Linked DNA regions of Homo sapiens. The protein of the gene in region 1 purifies or fractionates together with the protein of each later gene. This does not show direct contact. Each region holds a gene or a part of one and is shown on either strand. Other genes may lie near its edges.

What was found. Proteins that work in one complex are often made in the same cells at the same time.
Region 2: the proteins of SMC2 (region 1) and XRCC1 fractionate together in Homo sapiens (co-fractionation; one large-scale study listed by BioGRID). This does not show direct contact.
Region 3: the proteins of SMC2 (region 1) and BZW1 fractionate together in Homo sapiens (co-fractionation; one large-scale study listed by BioGRID). This does not show direct contact.
Region 4: the proteins of SMC2 (region 1) and FLII fractionate together in Homo sapiens (co-fractionation; one large-scale study listed by BioGRID). This does not show direct contact.

The regions. Positions count from the first base shown.
Region 1 is NC_000009.12:104,111,309-104,114,808, forward strand, and holds part of SMC2 (structural maintenance of chromosomes protein 2), read left to right. Parts: intron 1-272; coding exon 273-506; intron 507-2,007; coding exon 2,008-2,167; intron 2,168-2,655; coding exon 2,656-2,773; intron 2,774-3,382; coding exon 3,383-3,500. UniProt on the Homo sapiens protein: Central component of the condensin complex, a complex required for conversion of interphase chromatin into mitotic-like condense chromosomes.
Region 2 is NC_000019.10:43,544,528-43,548,027, reverse strand, and holds part of XRCC1 (DNA repair protein XRCC1), read left to right. Parts: intron 1-1,050; coding exon 1,051-1,144; intron 1,145-1,300; coding exon 1,301-1,433; intron 1,434-1,921; coding exon 1,922-1,976; intron 1,977-2,070; coding exon 2,071-2,210; intron 2,211-3,500. UniProt on the Homo sapiens protein: Scaffold protein involved in DNA single-strand break repair by mediating the assembly of DNA break repair protein complexes. Negatively regulates ADP-ribosyltransferase activity of PARP1 during base-excision repair in order to prevent excessive PARP1 activity.
Region 3 is NC_000002.12:200,814,910-200,818,409, reverse strand, and holds part of BZW1 (eIF5-mimic protein 2), read right to left. Parts: intron 3,070-3,500; coding exon 2,893-3,069; coding exon of another isoform or gene 2,887-2,892; intron 2,744-2,886; coding exon 2,649-2,743; intron 2,086-2,648; coding exon 2,020-2,085; intron 1,305-2,019; coding exon 1,169-1,304; intron 437-1,168; coding exon 327-436; intron 188-326; coding exon 17-187; intron 1-16. UniProt on the Homo sapiens protein: Translation initiation regulator which represses repeat-associated non-AUG (RAN) initiated translation probably by acting as a competitive inhibitor of eukaryotic translation initiation factor 5 (EIF5) function.
Region 4 is NC_000017.11:18,246,527-18,248,738, reverse strand, and holds part of FLII (protein flightless-1 homolog), read left to right. Parts: intron 1-17; coding exon 18-189; intron 190-705; coding exon 706-810; intron 811-890; coding exon 891-1,082; intron 1,083-1,381; coding exon 1,382-1,570; intron 1,571-1,686; coding exon 1,687-1,826; intron 1,827-1,910; coding exon 1,911-2,145; intron 2,146-2,212. UniProt on the Homo sapiens protein: Is a regulator of actin polymerization, required for proper myofibril organization and regulation of the length of sarcomeric thin filaments. It also plays a role in the assembly of cardiomyocyte cell adhesion complexes.

The sequences.
Region 1 (3,500 bases):
TGTTTAAATCTGCAATTATTATTTAGCCCAATGTCTCATGGATTTAATTTATAACATGGAATGAACCAGTAGTATAAGAGTTATATTTATTCTAAAAACTGAGAGTGAATTTCAAAATGATAATTCAGTATTTATAAAGTTATGATGGTTAAATTATTTTATTATGCTCACTCCAAATTGCTATGGAATTTTATTACATAAGGGTATGCGTATAAGAAAGTGGGTGTTTTTCCTGAAATATAATATTTTTCCATTTGAAACTCTTCCTAAAGGACTCAAAAACTTTAGCAGCAAAGGAAAAAGAGGTTAAAAAGATAACAGATGGACTGCATGCCCTTCAAGAAGCAAGTAATAAAGATGCTGAAGCTCTGGCAGCTGCACAGCAGCACTTCAATGCTGTTTCCGCTGGCCTGTCCAGTAATGAAGATGGAGCAGAAGCAACTCTTGCTGGTCAAATGATGGCCTGTAAAAATGATATAAGTAAAGCTCAGACAGAAGCCAAACAGGTAAATAGAGACATTAGCACTATGTGATTGCTTTTTTTTCCAAGAAGTTTCTTTTCATGTTATGCTTTGGCAATTGTTACATAATGTTGAAAATAATCAGTCTCAAGGAACTTGTTTGTTTACTTTATTCTGCAACTCTAATGCCTAATGCAGCGAAATTCAAATATGTTGATTGCTAAATATTGGTGATGTTAATTTGTGAAGATGCTGTACTACATAAATTATCTTAATTCGGTATGTAAGTGCAATAAATGCTTTGTTCTGTTTGCAGCATTGTGTGGAATTTTCGAGATTAATGCATTTATTCTTGTCTCTTTTTGGCTATTTTTATTTTTTATTGATAACATAATGTTGAAGTCTTAAGCTTTAACAGGAAAACAGGATTGTCCTCCCCATTGCTTTGCCTGCCATACCTAGTTCTTAAAACCTTGTTTCTCAAACTTTACATTTTTTTAGGAAGTATCTCTACCTCACATGTAGCCACATTCTAGTCTGCTCTCCCTACTCTGATTTCATAATCTTAAAAGTCTTGTCAGTCTATTATAATGTTTCTCAGATTTTACATAGTAGTGCAACTTACAGTCCTATGAACATAAGAATTTTGCTAGCAGAAAAAATACATGTACACAGGCACATCATTGTTTTGTTTTTAATGGAAGACACAGATTTTAAAACATGTACACAAATGTGTGTGATTATGCGTTAATCCTCAGGTTTTTCTCTTTATATATTTGCAACTTTTTCATTCAGGCATGACAGATGATAGTCACAAATTTATAAGAACTCTCAATAGTAGAAAAGCTTTAAAGTACTCTACTCTCAGTTTGTCTATTATTTTATAAGGGAACTGGGAAAAATACATCATTATACAGTTTTGGAGGATACCCCCATCTAAAACCCCATCTAGGTTTTAGAATACTAGTTCATAGTTTTAAGAAGCAGTGTTCAAGTGTATAAATTCTTGAAGGCCTGACACATGTAATTTAAATAGTTCTAGCATTTAATTATCAGACTCAGCATTTAAGTTTCTCTGTCAGTTTAGCTTCTTTTCCTGTATAATCTTACGTCTTATTGCTCAATTCAGTTTCTTTACTGTTATTAGATAGCACTCACAAATATATACACATACAAATATGAACAACTAAGCGGAAAGGAAAAGAACGAGAGTTGTGATTTCTAGCGTTCTTTTTTTAATTACCAGCTACTGACAGTTATTCGATATAATCCTTCAATTTGAATATGTCATATTTTATTAAAAATACGGACTTAAATTTCAAATTCTTTTACATATTAATCATATATTAGTTTATACTTTGAGTAGTTTTTTGAGGAGAAAATACTGGGAAATGACTAATTTGTTGAAATACTAATCCAAGAGACCAAACAATTAAACTTTGAAGGTTAAGGTCTCTTAGTAAAACCAATCTGAATCTTCGGCCATTTAATTACTAGCACTGTCTGCCTCATACATCCTATGGTCTGTTGCATTTTTCTGCCACAGGCTCAGATGAAGTTGAAGCATGCTCAACAGGAATTAAAGAATAAACAAGCTGAAGTTAAGAAGATGGATAGTGGCTACAGGAAGGATCAAGAAGCTCTAGAAGCTGTAAAAAGACTTAAAGAAAAACTTGAAGCTGAAATGAAAAAGCTAAATTATGAAGGTTTGCCTTTAAAAACATGATAATCAGATCATGAGGAGGTAGTGATTTTTGATAAAAAGCTAATTTAAATAAAGAACGCAAGCAAGTAGGAAACATTTCTTAGCCTATTAACAAGCATTAGTATAAGAAGTGTTGTAAATATCGTCAAAAAATACCTAATTATAAAACAACTCTTGAATTTTTGAGAACTCAGTATTGAGAATTTCCTGCTTCAATCATTTGAAAGCTCAAAAATGTCATTTGTGTATTTCTACATTAGGCATTCAGTTTGTATGTTATTTTTTGGAATGAAAATTGTGTTATTTGCCGTTGGAAATAATGTCTGTTTGACAGTGGATAGAAATAGGAAGGTTCAGCATGCTTTTTTAATACTTACAGAAATTTGTATTTTTTGCATGCTTTGGAAATAGTGGTTGCTAATATTTTCCTTAAAACAGTAGAGTGAGCTTTTAAAACTTGGTTTTAATTTATTATGATTTATCCTTCAGAAAATAAAGAGGAAAGCCTTTTGGAAAAGCGCAGGCAGCTGTCTCGTGATATTGGTAGATTGAAAGAAACATATGAAGCTCTATTAGCCAGATTTCCCAATCTTCGATTTGCATACAAGTAAGAGACTTAAGCCTTGAATTTTAACATAGTAATAATCAAGACATTTTTATTTAAGCTGGAAGCAGTGTGAAAATTTTGTCGAAACCAAGATTTTTGTATGAAACTTGTTGTAAGCTGCTTTTCTTTCATTGGTATTTTTCCTTTAAACATTTGTTGAAATGTTTTAAATGTTGGCAGGGAAATTCTTGTGAAATTTAATGGCTAATGATGCCACTAATCTTAAAATGAGGGAAATTTAATCTCAGTTCAAAATGTCTTCAGAGTTACTGTATCATTAATGTTAAATATCCACATTTACATCTTATAATTTGTTTTGCTATGTGGGTTTTTTATGGAATATTTACAGTAATCATATGTATTATAGGGATTAGAACATCAGAGTTGTTCTTACTACATTGAAACATACTGAAAGATCTATTGTGATTTAAAAACAACAGCTGGCTAGTCATTTGGGACATTTTAAAATTTTTGGTTTGTTAAAACCATTTTGCTGATTCTACTTTCATTTCACTTTAATGTGTTGTCCAAAAGAGCTCCTGATGAGTAAAGTATAACTTTTTCTACTTTATTATCTAAGATTAATTTTTGTCAACTTTTGTATTTCAGGGATCCAGAGAAGAACTGGAATAGAAATTGTGTGAAAGGACTTGTGGCTTCTCTGATTAGTGTGAAAGACACTTCTGCAACCACAGCTTTAGAATTAGTGGCTGGAGAACGACTCTAC
Region 2 (3,500 bases), on another chromosome or scaffold:
AACCTGCTACTGTTGTTAGAGCTAGGAAAATCCTTTTCCTGGAATGTTAGTGGCTTAAGGAACCATGATTATAGTGTTGTAGTCTTTAAAATGTGTTTGCTTTGAGATTTTCCCCTTAAATGGTGGGTATTTTCCTAATGAGAAACTGCCTTTGATTCTTAAAGGAGAAAGTTCTGATTTTTCATTCCTTTCTGAATTGAGACATTTCTTCCCCAAGAGGGAGGGGAATTCTGGGTACTGTGGTTCATGCCTGTAATCCCAGCACTTTGGGAGGCTGAGGTGGGTGGATCACTCGAGGTCAGGAGTTCGAGACCATCCTGGCCAACGTGATGAAACCTCGTATGTACTTAAAAAACAAAACAACACAAAAAACACAAAATTAGCCAGGCGTGGTGGCACATGCCTGTAATCGCAGTTACTGGGGAGGCTGAGGCAGGAGACTCGCTCGAACCCTGGGAGGTGGAGGTTGCAGTGAGCCAAGATCACGCCACTGCACTCTATCCTGGGTGACAGAGTGAGATCTTGTCTAAAAAAAAAAAAAAGCGGCCAGGAGTGGTGGCTAACGCCTGTAATTCCAGCACTTTCAGAGGCTGACGGGGGCAGAGCATGAGGTCAGGAGATCGAGACCATCCTGGCCAACATGGTGAAACCGTGTCTCTACTAAAATACAAAAAGTTGGCGGGGCATGGTGGTGTGCACCTGTAATCCCAGCTACTAGGGAGGCTGAGGCAGGGGAGTCGCTCGAACCTGGAGGCAGAGATTGCAGTGAGCCGAGATGAGGCCACTGCACTCCAGCCTGGCGATGGAATGGACTCTGTCTCAAAAAAAAAAAGAGGGAGGGGAAGAAAGGGGGTACCCAGGTCTGCAGGGCAGGTGGCCAGACTGACTGGGTTCACTGGGGCCTTCCTGAGCTGGGAGAGAATGGGCTGGGAACAAGACCATGAGGCCCACTAGAGTGAGTATTTTAGTAAATGCCAATGGCTGTTGCCTCCTGAACGCCCTCCCCACTTCCCTTGGGCCTGTTTGTCTGAGGCCCGATTTGTCCCCTAGGTACCTCATGGCAGGGCCAGGTTCCAGCAGTGAGGAGGATGAGGCCTCTCACAGCGGTGGCAGCGGAGATGAAGCCCCCAAGCTTCCTCAGAAGGTCTGATGCCCCCTGTCCAGTGGGGGAGGGTGTAGTGGGAGGATGACATGAGTCCGCTGTGGCACCCCAAACTTCCCACTCTTGCCTCTTGCAGGTACCCCCCCAACACACCCACACTGTTCCTGCCCTCCTCACCCACCCACTCTCCCTCCTTAGCAACCCCAGACCAAAACCAAGCCCACTCAGGCAGCTGGACCCAGCTCACCCCAGAAGCCCCCAACCCCTGAAGAGACCAAAGCAGCCTCACCAGTGCTCCAGGAAGATATAGACATTGAGGGGGTACAGTCAGGTCAGACTCTGAGGGAGGAGGGGCTGGGGCCTGGGCTCCTGAGTCTGAGGGAGGAGGGCCTGCGGCCTGGGCTCCTGAGTCTGAGGGAGGAGGGGCTGGGGCCTGGACTCCTGAGTCTGAGGGAAGAGAGCCTGGGGACCTGGACTCCTGGGTCTGAGGGATGAGGGGCTGGGGGCCTGGACTCCTGGGTCTGAGGGAGGAGGGGCTGGGGGCCTGGGCTTCTGGGTCTGAGGGAGGAGGGGCTGGGGGCTGGACTCCTGTGTCTGAGGGAGGAAGGGCTGAGTCCTGGACTCCTGGGTCTGAGGGAGGAGGGGCTGGGGCCTGGACTCCTGGATCAGAGGGAGGAGGGGCTGGGGGCCCAGACGACTGGATCTGGAGGGCAGTTGAGGCTGGGGGCATGAGATGCCTGGGTCTGTGCCATACTGGGAGAGCTGCCAGTCTTCCCAGGAGACAAGGCAGCCTTGCATTGACTGAGCTTCTACTTGCAGAAGGACAGGACAATGGGGCGGAAGATTCTGGGGACACAGAGGATGAGCTGAGGAGGTAGGGCTGGGGCTGGGGGTTGGGGTGTCCCTGGCCTTGGGTGTAGGGGAGGCTGCTCTGCATGCTCACTCTCTACTCCTCTTGGCACCCCCAGGGTGGCAGAGCAGAAGGAACACAGACTGCCCCCTGGCCAGGAGGAGAATGGGGAAGACCCGTATGCAGGCTCCACGGATGAGAACACGGACAGTGAGGAACACCAGGAGCCTCCTGATCTGCCAGTCCCTGAGCTCCCAGGTGGGAAATCCCCCCATCCCTCCTGAAGTGGCATTTTCTCTTCTCAGTTCTCAGCTGGGACTTGCCCTGGCCAGCCCTGGGGTCACTGCTGCCCCCGTGTCTTGCCTCCCCTCTCCTTCCTCAACCCACTCCCTGCCTCAGCACCTTCAGGTTCTGCCAGGCTTGTTCCTTTCCTTTCAGCATCCTCTCTGTGACTTGCCTTTTTCTCCCCTCCAGATTTCTTGTTCTGACCACTCCCCTCGCAGCCATGTGCCAGGTGTGACCTCCTTTTTTTCACGTCAGGGGTGAGGGCCCCACCCTCATGCTAGTGCTTCACTTGCTCAGGTGCCGTTCTGTTGGTCTGGGGTGAAGCCGGGCACACCAGGTGACAGGGGCACTGCTCTCTGTCAGGCCCTGGGTGGGTGCACACCAGTGTCTGCTTTAACATCAGCCATCACTCTGGACGTGGATGCTGTCTGCACACATTGTGTGTTTGCATTTCCAGTGTAAAAGAATAAGAACAAAAGGAAATGGGGAAACTCTGCAGGGAGTTGTGGGATGAGGGGCAGGGAGGCAGAGCTTCTTCGAGAATGAAGGGAGCAGAGGAAAGACAGTCACGGGCTGTGCAGAGGTGTGGTTCTGGGGCTTCCAGAAGAGCCGTTTCCACCCAGTTCCTCGTGGGTGATGGGCAGGAAGATGCTTTGATTCTCCCAAGCCCCTAAAGTGGCATCAGCAAATTGATGGCCTAGAGAGTCACCTTAAAATGGAAAGAAGGAGCCACCCCAAAGGTCAGAACAAGAAAGGCACTGGTTGGAAAGGAGAGCAAAGGTGAAGAAGTGGCAGATACTGACGTTTTCAGCCTGGACTAAGCTCATTAAGTGGCTCCAGGCAGGCCAGGCGTGGTGGCTCACCCCGTACTTTGAGAGGCCGAGGTGGGAGGACTGCTTGAGTCCAAGAGTTCAAGACCAGCCTGGGCAACATAGTGAGACCCCCCCCGACCCCCGCCTTTACAAAACATTTTAAAAATTAGCCGAGCGTGGTGGTGTGCTACTCAGTAGTCCTGGCTACTCAGGAGGCTGAGGTGGGAGGATTGCTTGAGCCCAAGAGTTTGAGACCAGCCTGAGCAACATGTCAATACCCCGTCTCTCTACAAAAAGTTTAAAAATTAGTCTGGCTTGGTGGCATGCACCTGTAGTCCCAGCTACTGGGGAGGCTGAGATGGGAGAATCACTTGAGCCCAGGAGGCAGAGGTTGCAGTGAGGCAAGATCACGCCACTGCACTCCAGCCTGGGCGACAGAGTGAGTCCTTGT
Region 3 (3,500 bases), on another chromosome or scaffold:
TTAAACAAAAACTTACATCCTTAAATGGATCACCACGGGACATCTGTTCTTGAAGTTCTTTCTGGAGCTCCTTACGAGCTCCGATGGTTTGCTGATTCCGAACATATTCTGAAAGCTCTTTCAAGCCTGCCTCAGTAAAATATTTTGTGAAGTGTTCAACACTTTGCTTATTGGCAGGAAAGAGTTCCTAAAAGAAGAATTTATCTGGTTAAACTTTCTTTAAATCAGATTAAGAAAAACACTTTCTTTTCACAGTCTTAAAAATGAGAAATTTCTCTCATTTACATCCTTGGCAAGAATGGGAAGAATGAAAAAAAGTTACCAACCATCAGTCTGTTATCCATGCTGACTTTCCGAAGACTTGCAGCTACTGCATTGATATCTTTTTCATTTATCCATGATTTAAAGAGCTTCACAGCAAAAGCTGCTGAAACTCCTGTAAAAGAAAATAGCTTAATTAACAGAAGTACCTTCCCTGGTTTCAATCACTGTGTCCCCCTATATCCTTCCCTTCATAGTTCAATCACATGGGATTACTGACTTTCCTCACAAACTTAACCCTGAACTTTCCTGGGCCACAGTTTATCACTTCTCCAATCTCCCTAGTCTACCACTTGCAAATTGTATATTCTTGGCCAAGTTACTTAAAGTGTTTTCCAAAGTATAAATTGAGGGCAACAGTCTCTACACTTGACAAGACTGTTGTGAGAATTACAGTAAGGTAACTTAAATACTCACTACTGCAAGCAGTTTTTTAAAAAAAAAAAAGCTTCAAAAAAATTACTGTAGAGAATAATCCGACAATTGGAGCCAAACAGGGAACTGATTTTCCCTTCCAGCTTGACATTTTCCCCAAACGTCATCTTCTCCAAGTCTCCCAATTGGTATTAATCTCTTCTGGGGTTCCCACAGCATTTCTCATTTTATTTTTATTACATATAACAACATTTTGTCTAAATCTGGGTATCTGTTGTATGCCTAAAGAAAGCCATTAAACCTGGATGCCAAAGGTATTCATTAAATGTCTAGTGAATTAGACTGAACTTATTAAATTTAAGGCTGGTTAATAAACGAAGACTTTCACAGAAGTCACATCTATGAACAGTAAACCATGCTCTTATCCACCCCACTCTGAGTCAACTGAAGACCATCCTTTAAGGCTGATTACCTTCTTTAACCAAATTTTCATTATAAAGGCTATTAAGAATGGATGCATTAAGTGTTCCATTAGCCAGAAGAACACCAGTCAACATAGCTAGCTTGTTCCTCTCCGACTCTGAAAAACCCTTCAAGAACAGCAGCAGCTGTAAAAAGTAAAACAATTAAGGGTTAAAACAGCAACTGCATTACAATAAGAGAAGCAGTAAAGCATGTTATACTGGCTACCTGTTCAATACGTGGGCTCTGGGATCTAACCATCCAAGTTTACATCTAAGTTACAATACTCATTAGCTGAATGATCTCGGGCAAGTTACTTAACCTCTGCACCTCACATGTAAAATGTGGATAATAAAACTTGCCTCACAGGGTTTTTATAAACATTGAGTGAATTAGTATCATTAGAACAGTGCCTGGTGCTTGATAAACATATCAAGTTTTCTGGGCATCTATATGCAATATTGGGCCAGGCGTGTTGGCTCACACCTATAACCCCAGCACTTTGGGAGGCCGAGGGCAGATCACTTGAGGCCAGGAGTTCAAGGCCAGCCTAGCCAACATGGTGAAACCCTGTCTCTACTAAAAACAGAAAATTAGCTGGGCATGGTGGCACATGCCTGTAATCCCAGCTACTCGGGAGGCTGAGGCACGAGAATCGCTTGAACCCGGGAGGCAAAGGCTGCAGTGAGCTGAGACTGAGCCACTGCACCCCCAGCCTGGGACACAGAGTGAGGCTCTGTCTCAAAAAACAACCCAAACAAACAAGCAAAATTACTCCAAATCTGTGGCGGAATTAGGATTTAACATTCCTCTTTCTAACCCTATTTTTTTCTTTTCCACAAAGTACATTATTACTCATACCTTTTTTACTTCATCTTCAAAACCTTTCTCCAGGTATTTGTAGCGCCTGATTAACTTGTTAAAAACCTATGAAGAACATTAAATGAATTCAGTAACTTCATATATTTCTAGAATAGCAAAGTAGTAAACCTTTCACTCGATGTAAGTTTATGAGCTGCTTAAACCAGCTTGAGAAGAATTCCTAGTGACACATAAGAATGTCCAGGTTAGATGTACTTTAATTCTTTGCTTACAGTAACACAAACATAACTACGTATGAAACTTTCCAATGAGATCTTGATTAACAAGCTAATCAGCTCACAACTCATTTAACTTTAAAAATAAATGTATGCAGATAAACTAGAGAAATCACAATACGAAACTGACTTTTCCAGCTTGACATTTTTCTTAAAAATTGAGTAATTTCAGGACAAATAGGAACAGAAGAGTTAATTTCATTTTTCCCTATTTTGTTCGCCTTAACACACCTTAAGTTTCTAATTCATCCCGTTGCACCAAGAACAGTATCCCTAAAATTTAAAATCAAATTCCTTCAACTTTCTAACCACAACTCTTAAAAGTAGAATATTCCTCAAATATACCACATGGATAGTAGCCAACTGAAAACAATTATGTAAAGTTTCATTTACCTGAGCAAATGCTTGCATGGTCTCTAGATCTTCTTGGGCTGCAAACACGCAGACATCTGTACGCATCATGTCATCTGCCAGTGTACCACCTGGGGCTAAAGTTGGATAAAACCAAAATACAACAAAACCAAAAAAATCACTCCATTTTAACAAGTTTGCCAAATAGTTCATATTCTAGACTCTCCATAATCTCCATATATTATACCTTTCTAAATTATTAAGCCCACAAACCACAGACACTTACCCAGCATTCCACCAGCCACCAGAATGTCAAAGAGTGTTTCTGCATATCGACGGTAATCAAGTTTTGCTCCAGAAGCATCAAGAAACTTAGCTACTGCTTCCAAATCAGTACCGGTTTCAGTTAAGCCTTGAATAATACAGTCTTGAAACTGAGTAGGGTCAAACCTCTCTTTTTCATCTGGGGGGACAAGGGACCCAAAACATTTAGTTTTAAAAGATTTACCAAAATGCCACAAAACTATCACCTTATGAAGATGCAATTGTTAAATAAGTTAGATTAAATTCACATCCTTTGCATGTTTCCCCTCTGCAAGTGTAAGACAAGATGGCCCACTCACAAGAATTGTGCAACTTTTCAAATAATTTCACAAGTGATCTAAATGTGCTAGTGTCTTGTGTTCCTACTGCCATAAGCCAATTTCTACTGGGAACGCCCTCCTACTGCCTCTTGGCTTTTCCAAAATTTAGGCCATCCTCTAACAGGTACATTTTATTCCTTTGGGTTTTGTCCAGACACTGGAGCTCTTGATCCTTTTCCTTAAATGTCCATAATATTAAACAAACAAAAAAATTGAACCAATCCTTTGGCATTTATGAAGGTGAGCTTTA
Region 4 (2,212 bases), on another chromosome or scaffold:
TTGCATCCTGCTCTCAGGCTCTTTGCAGAGAAAATTAACAAGAATGAGCGGAAAGGGAAGGCTGAGATCACACTGCTGGTGCAGGGCCAGGAGCTCCCAGAGTTCTGGGAGGCACTGGGTGGGGAGCCCTCTGAGATCAAGAAGCACGTGCCTGAAGACTTCTGGCCGCCGCAGCCCAAGCTGTACAAGGTGAGCCCTGCTGCTGAGGCCCACCTTGGCCTCCCAAGTTCACCCACCGACTGGGGGAATGGACTACACACCGATGTAGTTGGCTTTGGGCTCCATCTCGACTTTGGTGGGGAGAGGGTGCCACCTTCTGGACAAGGAACAGTATGAGCAAAGGTCTGGAGGCTGCTTTTGAGAAGTAGCCTCACGGAGTCTTTCCAGGATGGTGGGGCCGTAGGGGAGACAGAAGCACCTAGTGCCAGGGCTGGGAACCTTGGCTCAATTATCTAGATTCTTGTGAACAGGAAAGGGACACGTTAATTAGAAATGGCATGAAGGGCCTGGAGAGGGCAGGCAGGGAAAACTCCATTTAAAAGCCCTTCTGAAAGGATATCCCTAAAAAGACCTTGAAGGGGAGGGGGAAACAGAAGCAGTCAGTGAGCCACGCTGCAGGGCAGGGCTGGTTCCAGAGCAGAGGGCTGTGTGGGTGAGGTTCCTGTCTCCAGATCCCTTCCCTGCCATGCTCATCCTTCCTGCCAGGTGGGCCTGGGCTTGGGCTACCTGGAGCTGCCACAGATCAACTACAAGCTCTCCGTGGAACATAAGCAGCGTCCCAAGGTGGAGCTGATGCCAAGAATGCGGCTGGTAAGAGATGCAGGAGGAGGGCGTGGGGCCAGATCCCTCCCCGTTGGCTGGGCTTTGACCTCCAGACTCCCGGTCCGCAGCTGCAGAGTCTGCTGGACACGCGCTGCGTGTACATTCTGGACTGTTGGTCCGACGTGTTCATCTGGCTCGGCCGCAAGTCCCCGCGCCTGGTGCGCGCTGCCGCCCTCAAGCTGGGTCAGGAGCTGTGCGGGATGCTGCACCGGCCACGCCATGCCACGGTCAGCCGCAGCCTCGAGGGCACCGAGGCGCAGGTGCGCTTGCAGCTTCGGAGGCCCCTCCCCAGGATCCTTCGCACCCTGACATGCCCTGACCCCTGTGGCTTCACTACCTCCCTACAGAGCTGGGCCCAAACCCACCTCCTCTTTGCTGACTCTGCCCAGGCCCCGCCCCCTCTGCAAGCTGCCCCTCCTATTCCTACCTCCGTGTCCGAGGCCCCGCCTCCCAAGCCCCGCCCTAGATCTCCCTTGGGTCCCGCCTCAAGCCTCGGGCTACTTCCTCCAACTCTAATCATGCCGCACCCCTCATGGTTAGTTGATGGCCTCCCTGGCAGGTGTTCAAGGCCAAGTTCAAGAATTGGGACGATGTGTTGACGGTGGACTACACACGCAATGCGGAGGCCGTGCTGCAGAGCCCGGGTCTCTCCGGGAAGGTGAAACGCGACGCCGAGAAGAAAGACCAGATGAAGGCTGACCTCACTGCGCTTTTCCTGCCGCGGCAGCCGCCCATGTCGCTGGCCGAGGTGGGGGCAGGGCCGGGACCGGGGCGCGGGGGGGGGGGTGGGGGGCAGGCCGAGGGCGGGGCCTATGCGCAGAGCGCGCTCAGACCTGCCGCGGGGCGGGTCCCTCTCACCTGCAGGCGGAGCAGCTGATGGAGGAGTGGAACGAAGACCTAGACGGCATGGAGGGTTTCGTGCTGGAGGGCAAGAAGTTTGCGCGGCTGCCGGAAGAGGAGTTTGGCCACTTCTACACGCAGGACTGCTACGTCTTCCTCTGCAGGTACCACCTCAGCACTCCCTTCCCCAAGTCCCTCCCCTGGTGCTGGGGGCTCGAGCCCCTGCTCACAACCTTCCAACCCGGCAGGTACTGGGTGCCTGTGGAGTACGAGGAGGAGGAAAAGAAGGAAGACAAGGAGGAGAAGGCCGAGGGCAAAGAAGGCGAGGAAGCAACCGCTGAGGCAGAGGAGAAGCAGCCAGAGGAGGACTTCCAGTGCATCGTGTACTTCTGGCAGGGCCGTGAAGCCTCCAATATGGGCTGGCTCACCTTCACCTTCAGCCTGCAAAAGAAGTTCGAGAGCCTCTTCCCTGGGAAGCTGGAGGTGTGCCTGGCAGCCCCGCGAGCCCGAGGCCAGGCGGAGGGGTGTGGTGGGGCTCAGACCCAGCGAA